Linked DNA regions of Homo sapiens. The protein of the gene in region 3 purifies or fractionates together with the protein of the main gene of each other region. This does not show direct contact. Each region holds a gene or a part of one and is shown on either strand. Other genes may lie near its edges.

What was found.
Region 1: the proteins of CDON (region 3) and CDH2 purify together in Homo sapiens (affinity purification with western blotting, with the first as the bait; one study listed by BioGRID). This does not show direct contact.
Region 2: the proteins of CDON (region 3) and CDH15 purify together in Homo sapiens (affinity purification with western blotting, with the first as the bait; one study listed by BioGRID). This does not show direct contact.

Annotation. Positions count from the first base shown.
Region 1 is NC_000018.10:27,950,398-27,953,955, reverse strand, and holds the end of CDH2 (cadherin-2 isoform 1 preproprotein), read left to right. Parts: intron 1-1,596; coding exon 1,597-1,803; 3' UTR 1,804-2,990; downstream 2,991-3,558. UniProt on the Homo sapiens protein: Calcium-dependent cell adhesion protein; preferentially mediates homotypic cell-cell adhesion by dimerization with a CDH2 chain from another cell. Cadherins may thus contribute to the sorting of heterogeneous cell types.
Region 2 is NC_000016.10:89,170,456-89,174,721, forward strand, and holds the start of CDH15 (cadherin-15 preproprotein), read left to right. Parts: upstream 1-1,292; 5' UTR 1,293-1,376; coding exon 1,377-1,418; intron 1,419-4,266. UniProt on the Homo sapiens protein: Cadherins are calcium-dependent cell adhesion proteins. They preferentially interact with themselves in a homophilic manner in connecting cells; cadherins may thus contribute to the sorting of heterogeneous cell types.
Region 3 is NC_000011.10:125,959,094-125,961,866, reverse strand, and holds part of CDON (cell adhesion molecule-related/down-regulated by oncogenes isoform 2 precursor), read left to right. Parts: coding exon 1-143; coding exon of another isoform or gene 144-212; intron 213-761; coding exon 762-925; 3' UTR 926-2,773. UniProt on the Homo sapiens protein: Component of a cell-surface receptor complex that mediates cell-cell interactions between muscle precursor cells. Promotes differentiation of myogenic cells.

The DNA.
Region 1 (3,558 bases), on a different chromosome or scaffold from region 3:
TTTTGTTTCTTAAAATATATCTTCATCGTTTCTTATTTTTTCAAATCCCAAGGCAGGACATTTTTCTCAAAACTTAAATTTTTTAAAAATACTAACTAATATTCATTGAGCTCTACATGTGCCAGTCACTGTGGTGAGACCTCGGGTCCCTTTATTGCATTTGGTCTTTATAATAGTCCTATTATTATGATTACAGTTGTAGATGAGGTTAAGCGGAGGTCCCACAGCTAGTACTGGGGAGAGCTAAGGTGTCATCTCACAGTCTGATCTCTTAACCACTACACCATACTGATTCTGACCTTAATTTTTTTGCTCTTCTTCCCTGTTTCTCCTTTGTAACCTTGAAAGGATAGGTGAACACATGCTCATAAAAACCCATGTATGCGCTCATAAAATGCATGTGTATTGGCAGGCTTGATCTCTCAAGGGTAGGACTGTCTGTGACACATCTTAGATAGGTGAGGCCATATAAGCCAACTAGCATTTGACAAGTAGAGTGTGGAAAAAGCAAACGATTGTTTGGAGACTAATGTTAGTGTATCTAGGAGTACTAGAATGGAATTGGGGGAAAAAATTAAGTAGAAAATATACCAGAGGACCTAATACTAAATCCTTAGAAGTTTTGCAGAGCATAGAGACTCTAATTGTATATTAAAAAGCATCTGCTTACAAAAGTTACAAATATAGATAGTAGTTATTTCCTTGTTTCTTTTTTCTTAAAATTCTTTATAAGAACCAGATAACGCATGTTATTTTAGATTGACAGGAGTCCTCCTCTTTTCAATATTTATACCGTGTACAGATATTGGATTATGACATTTCTAGGATTTTTTGGAAGTTAGAAGATACCCTATTTTTTAAAATACCAGTTTACAATTAATTAATTCCACATTTTATGCTATGTTAGTCACATAAATGATTTTCTGAGTACCTCCCTTTATGTAGTAATCACATCTGACCTGTCTTCAGTCTTCCTTTGATGTCCTTCCAAAATGAGGTCAAATACAATGCTACTTTCTCTTTGAACTCCTAGCTCTTAATGCTGATGTGAATTTTTTTCCCCCACAACCTGATGGCTTTTGCTTTGACTTCATAGTTTTGTCACTTGTCATTTGCTTCACACAGTAGTAATACCTGTTATGCTAGACTGTAAGCCTGTGGAGGGACATGGACCACATGGTACTCATTTGTGTGTCTCTTGTATTTCAGTGAGGTGCTTTTTTTAAATTTAATCTAGCAATGCTGCTCTATATATTATGTTATTTAAGATCCTTTCTTCTCTGCCTCAAGCAGGGCCATTCATTTCTGCCACCTGTCCAACTTATTACCCAGTTAACCCCCTCCCTTCATAAGCCTTGGCCTCCCTGAGCTTGACTGCTTAGGGTTGTTTCTTTGCACCGGAAAGATATAAGTTAATTTTTGTCCAACTTTCAAATGGTTATATCTCCCTTTTCCATGTGTTGAAAATATGGTATGTAAATGGAAATTTACAAACAAGTGTTTGTTTGATCCCGTGAATTCATTAGGATCTGCTTGTGGTTTTGTAAAGTGTAACCCTCTCTTAATTCTTTCATTCTTTGTGTTTCCAAATTGCAGGGCCTTAAAGCGGCTGACAATGACCCCACAGCTCCACCATATGACTCCCTGTTAGTGTTTGACTATGAAGGCAGTGGCTCCACTGCTGGGTCCTTGAGCTCCCTTAATTCCTCAAGTAGTGGTGGTGAGCAGGACTATGATTACCTGAACGACTGGGGGCCACGGTTCAAGAAACTTGCTGACATGTATGGTGGAGGTGATGACTGAACTTCAGGGTGAACTTGGTTTTTGGACAAGTACAAACAATTTCAACTGATATTCCCAAAAAGCATTCAGAAGCTAGGCTTTAACTTTGTAGTCTACTAGCACAGTGCTTGCTGGAGGCTTTGGCATAGGCTGCAAACCAATTTGGGCTCAGAGGGAATATCAGTGATCCATACTGTTTGGAAAAACACTGAGCTCAGTTACACTTGAATTTTACAGTACAGAAGCACTGGGATTTTATGTGCCTTTTTGTACCTTTTTCAGATTGGAATTAGTTTTCTGTTTAAGGCTTTAATGGTACTGATTTCTGAAACGATAAGTAAAAGACAAAATATTTTGTGGTGGGAGCAGTAAGTTAAACCATGATATGCTTCAACACGCTTTTGTTACATTGCATTTGCTTTTATTAAAATACAAAATTAAACAAACAAAAAAACTCATGGAGCGATTTTATTATCTTGGGGGATGAGACCATGAGATTGGAAAATGTACATTACTTCTAGTTTTAGACTTTAGTTTGTTTTTTTTTTTTTCACTAAAATCTTAAAACTTACTCAGCTGGTTGCAAATAAAGGGAGTTTTCATATCACCAATTTGTAGCAAAATTGAATTTTTTCATAAACTAGAATGTTAGACACATTTTGGTCTTAATCCATGTACACTTTTTTATTTCTGTATTTTTCCACTTCACTGTAAAAATAGTATGTGTACATAATGTTTTATTGGCATAGTCTATGGAGAAGTGCAGAAACTTCAGAACATGTGTATGTATTATTTGGACTATGGATTCAGGTTTTTTGCATGTTTATATCTTTCGTTATGGATAAAGTATTTACAAAACAGTGACATTTGATTCAATTGTTGAGCTGTAGTTAGAATACTCAATTTTTAATTTTTTTAATTTTTTTATTTTTTATTTTCTTTTTGGTTTGGGGAGGGAGAAAAGTTCTTAGCACAAATGTTTTACATAATTTGTACCAAAAAAAAAAAAAAAGGAAAGGAAAGAAAGGGGTGGCCTGACACTGGTGGCACTACTAAGTGTGTGTTTTTTTAAAAAAAAAATGGAAAAAAAAAAGCTTTTAAACTGGAGAGACTTCTGACAACAGCTTTGCCTCTGTATTGTGTACCAGAATATAAATGATACACCTCTGACCCCAGCGTTCTGAATAAAATGCTAATTTTGGATCTGGTGACTGGTTTGAACTTTTTCTTTTCTACTTGAGCTGCTTTGAATGTTGCAAAAATCCCAAGTACTGGGAACAACAGTACAAAAAGTATGTATTTGTTCTTGCACTATTCACCATTGAAACGCGTAGCATGGCAACCATGTACGGTGTGCAGCAGAGAGAATCATTTTGGACCTTCCCATCATCATAGAAGAAAAACATCAAGTGATTCAGGAATAGACCCTACTGGTGGTGATAGAAAAATCACATCCTTTACCTTCAGTGAACTTCGGTGTTAATTCTTAATATAACTCATGTTTTAATTTGTTTCTGCTCAAGTTAATTGTTCTGTTGACTGACAGGCCTTTCCCATTAGAGCCACCACCATAAGGGAAACTTCAGTAAAGTGGGTTATAGGACTGAACCTGGAAACTGCAGTGGACACCTGGAATTCTTGTGCAATTCATTGAAGCCATCGTTTTATGTACTTAGTGAAACACACTTAGATTTGACTGGCCTTTATCCATTGACTTGATCATTTGCTTCAGTTTGATATAGTAATGGTTGCAGAGGGCAACAAAAGGAAACAGTC
Region 2 (4,266 bases), on a different chromosome or scaffold from region 3:
CAGGCCAAGTGCACAGATGCTGCCTGCACCTGCACAGCCACCCGCCGTCGACAGGAGAGCAGAGGTACCGGGTCTGCTCCCATCACAGAGAGGAACGGGCTCCCCGGCCCGGCCCTGGGCTGGTCGGCAACCCCCACTCCCCACCCTGCCTGCTCAAAAGAAAGGATCCTCCTGCCTCCAGCCCCCTCCACCCCCTCTCCAGGACCTTCCTGACCGTGCGCTGGGCCTGTGCAGGTGTTGAGCCACACCCACACCATCCCAGGGGGCGGGGTCTCGAAGGGGAGAACAGGTGCCACAGTCAACAGGAGGGAGGGCTTCTGGCCGAGGTGGCAAGGAGGCTCCAGGAGGCGGCAGCGTTGACCTTGGGTGTTGAGGGATGATGAGAAGGAGTTCTGTAGGAAGGAAGGTGCTCCAGGCAGGGGGCCTCGGGGAACAAGGGGATGCTGGAGGAGGTGCGTGGACTGGGGGAATTGGGGGTGTCCTACGAGCCACGCTGGTATCAGAGGCGTGTGAACCAGAGCAGTTCCATACTGAATAAGAGCTGGGCAAAATGAGGTCGCGAGGAGGTGCGTGGAAGGCGGGCCTAGCGTTCAGTGGGATGCGGGGAGGCGCAGGAGACGCAGCCAGAGAGGCGAGGGGCCCAAGGAAGTGCTCAAGAGGTGTCCCCCGGCAGGGACTACAATGCAGATTCCCTGGAGCAGGGGCGAGCCGGGCCCAAGGAGCAGGAAATGAAGAAGCCAGGAATCCCAGCTGGTCCCTGACCCGGACGCACCCACCCTGCCTTCCCCACAGCCTGGCCTCTGGCTCTGCTCCCAACGCAGCAAGCCGGGGTATCTCCGACCTAGCCCTGGCCCTGCCCGCCGGAACCCCGCAAAAGCTATCACTCAGCCCTCGGCCCCGCCCCGGCCCCACCCCGGCCCCACCCCGCACTCTCACAAGGTGTCACTCAGCCCTCGGCCCCGCCCCGCCCGCCCCATCCTCCTCTGGCTCCGCCCCACCAGCCTCGTGCGGTCACCGCCCCGCCGGCGCACCTGCGCTGTCACTCAGCCCTCGGCCCCGGCCCCGCCCCGCCTGCCCCACTCGCACACGGGCTATCACTCAGCCTGCGCCCCGCCCTAGCTCGCCAGAGGCTCCGCCCCACCCGCCTGCCAACACGCTGTCACTCAGCCTTAGCCCTGCCCAGGCCGGCCCTCGGCCCGTCAGAGGCCTCCTTCGTGCTGTCACTCAGCCCTTGCCCCGCCCCCTCCCCGCCCCCCTCACACGTGCTGTCTCTGTCTCTGGCCCTGGCCCGCCCCGCGCACTTGCGCTGTCACTCAGCCTGGACGCGCTTCTTCGGGTCGCGGGTGCACTCCGGCCCGGCTCCCGCCTCGGCCCCGATGGACGCCGCGTTCCTCCTCGTCCTCGGGCTGTTGGCCCAGGTAAGGCATCGGCACCTGCGGGGGTCCCCGCTGCCTCCCTCGACGCTGCGGGACAGTGTCTTCAACTGCAGCCGCACAGGTCTCCCCCAGAACCACTGGCCCTGGTCGCCTTTGGGGGCCTGTGAGCGGAGTGGCTCCGGGTGGGTCCCTGGGCTGGGGGCAGCACCCCAGGGGTTGTGGGGAGTGAGTGTAACCAAACACTCCATCTGGTGGAATCACCCCCAGGACTGCAGAGTGCTGCTGGGGTCAGGGACCCCAGGCAGGGGCCACCCAGGTAGCCGTGCCCTCTCTTTGGAGGAACCGCTGCCGGGGTCTGGGGGTTGCCAGTCTTGAGTGGAGCAGAGAGAGGGGGGAGCGGCAGGAGTGCCCCTCTCTGGGGGGCTGGGGGCCAGGTTTCTATAGGGACTCCCTGCGGTGGGCACAGGACCCCTGGCTAGTCTTGGGTTTTGTCCAAACCCCCCACCCCAAGTTCCTGGCCAGCAGGGGTGGCTGCAGGCCCTGCCCCCAGGAACTCACCCTCACGGCTACTTCTCGATTGGGAGGGCCCAGCCCGAGCCAGGTCGCAACACACGGCCTTGCAGAGTGGCGTGTGGCAGCCCTGGGGGCTCTGTTCCTGGGCTTCACCTGGGACCCTGCCGCAGCTGCCTGGGGTGATCAGGCCTGGGGGCCCAGCCCCCAGAGGCTGCTGGACTCTGCCCCTAAAAATCTTGTCTGGACTGCTGGCACCGTGGTCTCTCCAACGTGGGAGCAAGCCAGAGTGGAAGGAAGCCCAGGCCTCAGCCCCCCACACCCGACATGGGTACTGCCTAGCTGGAGCCACGTCTCCTCACACCCTAGGGGGACCTAGACATGGAGGATGTGGCCTCAGTGGCTTCAGCCCCCAGGGACTGGGCTGGGCTGGGGCATGGCCGGCTGTGGTTGGGACGTCACTGGGTACAAGAGGGCAGCCTCTCTCTGGCCAATTCGAGAGAGAATGCACATAAAGGGCTTAGCGGTGCTCACAGTATTCATTGCTCTTGTGGTCCTGGGGTGGTCAGGGAGTGCTGGACACAGTGAGTAAGGGAAGCCACTCCTTTCCCAGCCCCCACTGAAGGGGCTTCCTGAGTCCCCTCATTCCCACAGGCCTCCCAGCTCCAGCTGGCTCCAATTTCAGCCCCTGGCAGCTGACCAGGCGCCTGGCCAGCCAGACCCTCCAGCAGCTGCCCCTGAGGGCACCACGGCTCCTGCCACCCCCGACTCCCCCATCTGGAGACAGTGGTGGGGGGAGACAGTGGCTCAGCATGCGTGCTCACCCCCCGGCCCTCCACCCCTCAGCCCTCTGCCGGGGAGCGCAGGCTGGGGGGCTCCATGCCTCCAGGGCCCTTCCCCACCTGCTCTGGGGACAGGGTTTCTTCCCTGGCACCCCAACCCAGGGCATGGTGGTGGGGAGGCTGGCGCCTGTGAAAACATTCCTCCAGACCTCTTCCTTTGGATTTGGGAGTGTCTGCCTTTCAAAAGGCCCCAGGGGGCTCTGTGGCAGGTGGGGAGGCAGGCAGGACCTCTCCCTCCTCAGAAGCCTTCCCTCTCACTGTCCCTTCTTTTCTCGCCCAGGGCTGGGGGACAATAACCCCCTCCCCCGACAGCTGGAGGCTGGGGGAGGTGGTGGAGGTGGGGGCCAGATGGCAAGGGGACTATCGCCAAGGCTCAAATTCACTCCACTGTGAGGCAAAATATGTCAGTGTCAGGACCCTGCCTGCCCCTCCCCCAGCAGCTCAGCTTTCAGGACTGTGAGCTCTCCTGGGCAGCCTTGGGGTCCTGGGCCGCCTCCTGGTGAGCCCCCAGGCAGGCAGCGTGGGCCCATCAGGGCCTTCTACAAGTGAGGGGTTGCTCCCCTGCTCGGGCCACCTCTGATTGCTGAGCTCACTCAGCCCCACCCGGAGGGTGTCTTCAGAACTGGCCCCTCTCAGCCCTGCTGCACCTACACCATCCCTAGTTGCTGGTTCTACACCTGGGACCCCACCCCAGCTGGGAGGCGGCTGAGGTCTGGGGCAGCACACTTGACTCACAGAGAACCCCAGCCTGCTGGGAAGGTCCCCACTTCTGCATCTGGGTTTTGGGAGCCCCTTGGTCTCTGGGAGACAGTCAGCAGCACCCTGGGGGCCAGGCAGGGGCTCTTAGCTCGGGTGACTGTGACCAAGGCCAAGAAGGGAAGTGGCTCCCAGGCCACTGTTCTTCCCACAGTGGAAGGACAGCCCCAGACACCGTGCTTTGGAGGGGACAGCTGCCTCCATGCCTCTTCTTCCACATCCCTTCTCTGAAGCCCGCAGCAGCTAGAGAGGGTGGGGCCCAGGGAAGATGCTCCAGCCGCTCTGGGCCAGGCCAACAGCTGGGGCCATTCCTGGCATGCCTGGCCATCCAGGAACGGGGTGGCCCCAGATTCCAGCCTGGGGGAGGGGTTGAAGCCTGAGAAGCTTGAGGGGCCTTCGCACTCTCTTCCCAGGCAAACCCACCCACACGCCACCAAGCGTGTTCCTAGAATCTCGTAGCACCCTTCCTTGGAAAACCGGGGGAGCAGGAGTGCAAGGTCGGCCCCAGAACCGCTCCTCGTTCCCGTCTCGCAGTGGTGTTCGTAAACCCCATTCCCACCTCGCAGTGGTGTTTGTAGACTGCAGCAAGCGCCCAGTGTGTGCAGAGCTTTCTTACACAGCAGCCCCTTGGGGTTGAGTGTCAGGCTAGGAGCAGACCTCAAGAGAGGCGTTAAGTCCCAGGAGCTTGGCTGCAGGGCGGTGGCCCCAGACGTCTCAAGGGCTTCGAGGTGGTTCCCTCCAGGCTCTTGGCTAAGGGTCCAGTCGAGGATGAGCTTGGGGGT
Region 3 (2,773 bases):
CGCAGTCCCTGATTGTGGCCAGTTGCCGGAGGAGAGCGTCAAGGACAATGTGGAACCAGTCCCTACTCAGCGTACCTGCTGTCAGGACATTGTAAATGACGTCAGCTCTGATGGCTCAGAAGATCCAGCAGAGTTCAGCAGAGGTCAGGAAGGCATGATCAACCTTAGGATTCCAGATCATCTTCAGTTAGCTAAGAGCTGTGTATGGGAAGGTGATGCTTTCAGAGTTTCCCCTCTATGATTAGTTTACATATTTCTTGGGAGACTGGGTGGGGTGCTGGGTCCTTCAGGAAAAGATAGGACTCAAGATAAAGGATTCTTTGAAATTCTGTTATTACTCATGTCCTTCATCTCAGGCTGTCAATCCCATCACACTTTGGAAAATCTATTTGGAAATAGGCTTTGATTTCATTCGTAGGGTAGCAGAAGACTTGCTGGAAGAATGCATTTTGTGAACATGAGCCCCTTTTTGATTTGAGTTGGTTCTGGAGTTGTAACCTTTCTTTCAGGTGGTTATTTTAGGGCTTTTAAGGGGTTGCTTTACTTCTCAGGTGAATTGTATAGCTTCTCATGAGAGCTCAACTTTATTTTAAACCTTTTAAACCTTCTGTCGCCCTCAAATTCAAACCACACACAAACCAGGTTCTATTTATGCTCGTTTTTCTTTCTTCTTGGCTCAAAGTGTGAAGAAGTTTTTAGACTGCTTTGTAAAAATCAGCCTTTATCATTTGATAATGCTCCCAAACCCTGCTGTGTTTCAGGAGACAGCTGTGCCCATTCAGAAACAGAGATCAACATTGTAAGTTGGAATGCTCTTATTTTGCCACCTGTCCCCGAGGGCTGTGCTGAGAAGACAATGTGGTCTCCACCTGGCATTCCTTTAGACAGCCCGACAGAGGTCCTTCAGCAGCCCCGGGAAACCTGAGGACATGCAAACAACCAGTCATGTTCCAACTTCAAGCCGGTAACTGCACACAACAGGCCTGGGAGCGAACTGTGTGAAGGACCTTAATTCAAATCAGAGAAAATCATTATTTATTTTTTTGTAGTAGTAATGTCATATGAATGTATCTTAAAACGTGTGCCCTTTTATATTATTTATGCCTTAAATGTTTTCTTCCCCATTCCTTCCTCCCCCTCGGTAGGAAACAACCTTGTTTTGCATAGTATTCAGTCACCTGGAGGGCAGAGGGGTCCTTCCATGTTTTCTAACAGCTATAGTGACAGCAAGAGCTCCTCATGCAAAGGATCCCATCTCTTGGCTGCTTCGGCTAGGAGGGAATGCAGGGGCCCGTTGAAGGTTGCCACCAGCTGGGTTTTCAGGTGGAAAATGGTCTTTCAATAGTGTATTCTCAGACTTTTTTTTGTTTGTTTTTTGAGATGGAGTCTTGCTGTCATCCAGGCTGGAGTGCAATGGCTCGATCTTGGCTCACTGCAACCTCCGCCTCCCAGGTTCAAGCAATTCTCCCGCCTCAGCCTCCTGAGTAGCTGGGACTACAGGCACCTGCCACCACGTCCAGCTAATTGTCTTGTATTTTTATTAGAGACAAGGTTTCAGGCTGGTTTTGAACTCCTGACCTCAAGTGATCCACCCGCCTCCGCCTCCCAAAGTGCGAGGATTACAGGCGTGAGCCACCACGTCTGGCCTGTATTATCAGACTTCCTGAGAACACTTTGAAATCAACTGCAGTTGTGACCCATGTTTATAATAACAGACCTGGCTGACGGATTTTACAAGAGTGCCTTCCACAGAAGTGGTAATGTGACCTGTTGACTTTGTATCTGCACGTGGGCACGAGTGATGTTCAGTTTGCTAGGCACTAGTCATAGTGTTATGGACGTGGTGGAGTGTAAGGTCTTGATGAATTACGGCAGTATGCAGAAAAGGAACCAAGGCCAGAGAGACAAATAATGCCTCATGTCCCACTGCTTTAAAATTACATTAATTTATAAAATGGCCACTATGGGCTCTTTTTGACTGTTTCTCGGAGTAGGAACAAAATAAGACATTAAATGGTGGCTTGAAGAGAAAGATACACATTTTCAGAAGAAAGAAAGGGGAGGGCTGCAGGGAGCCTGTCTTGGCGGGAGCTCTCCAGTCTGTTGGATTAGCACAGGGACACGCTTATGGTGCCATGACGCCGAAACTAGTCATCCCCCATCTCCAGCATAGGCAACGGCCTGCAGGGGTGAGTGTCAGAAAAGACTTACTTTGGAAGAAAAGGGTTTTTTTTTGTTTGTTTGTTTTTTGTTTTTTTTTGTTTGTTTGTTTTGGGTTTTTTTCCTGAAATTTCCTGATACCTTTTTCAGAATGTCACCCTTGTAAATAGGCACCTAAAGCCAAGTTGGTCAGCAGAGCTCCTGACCACGGCTGCCTCTGCGTGACAAGGACATTTGCAGCTGCCTTTGGAAGGCTCTTCACATTAAAAAACAATAATTATGTAAGTGTGTTTCATAGCTTGAGTCAAGCTTTCAAGGATCACTGCTCCTTTGTGCATTGTGCATCCCTTTGGGGAAAGAAACAGAAAATTATTCTCTTTCTATAGAGTCAAGCAATTCCAGCAGAAGTGAAGAAATGTTAGTTTCCCAGAAATCGCAGTGGAATAGAATACAATACTGTGTTAACCAACTTTCTGTATAAATGCATCAGTATTCCCTTACATATGTCTATATATTTTATAATAGAACTGTTAGTGAAAATGTGCTTGTTTAAGCTGGGTCACTATGCAAGAGTTACTTCCAGTAGAATGTAGTGAATGTAATTCCCTAGTCG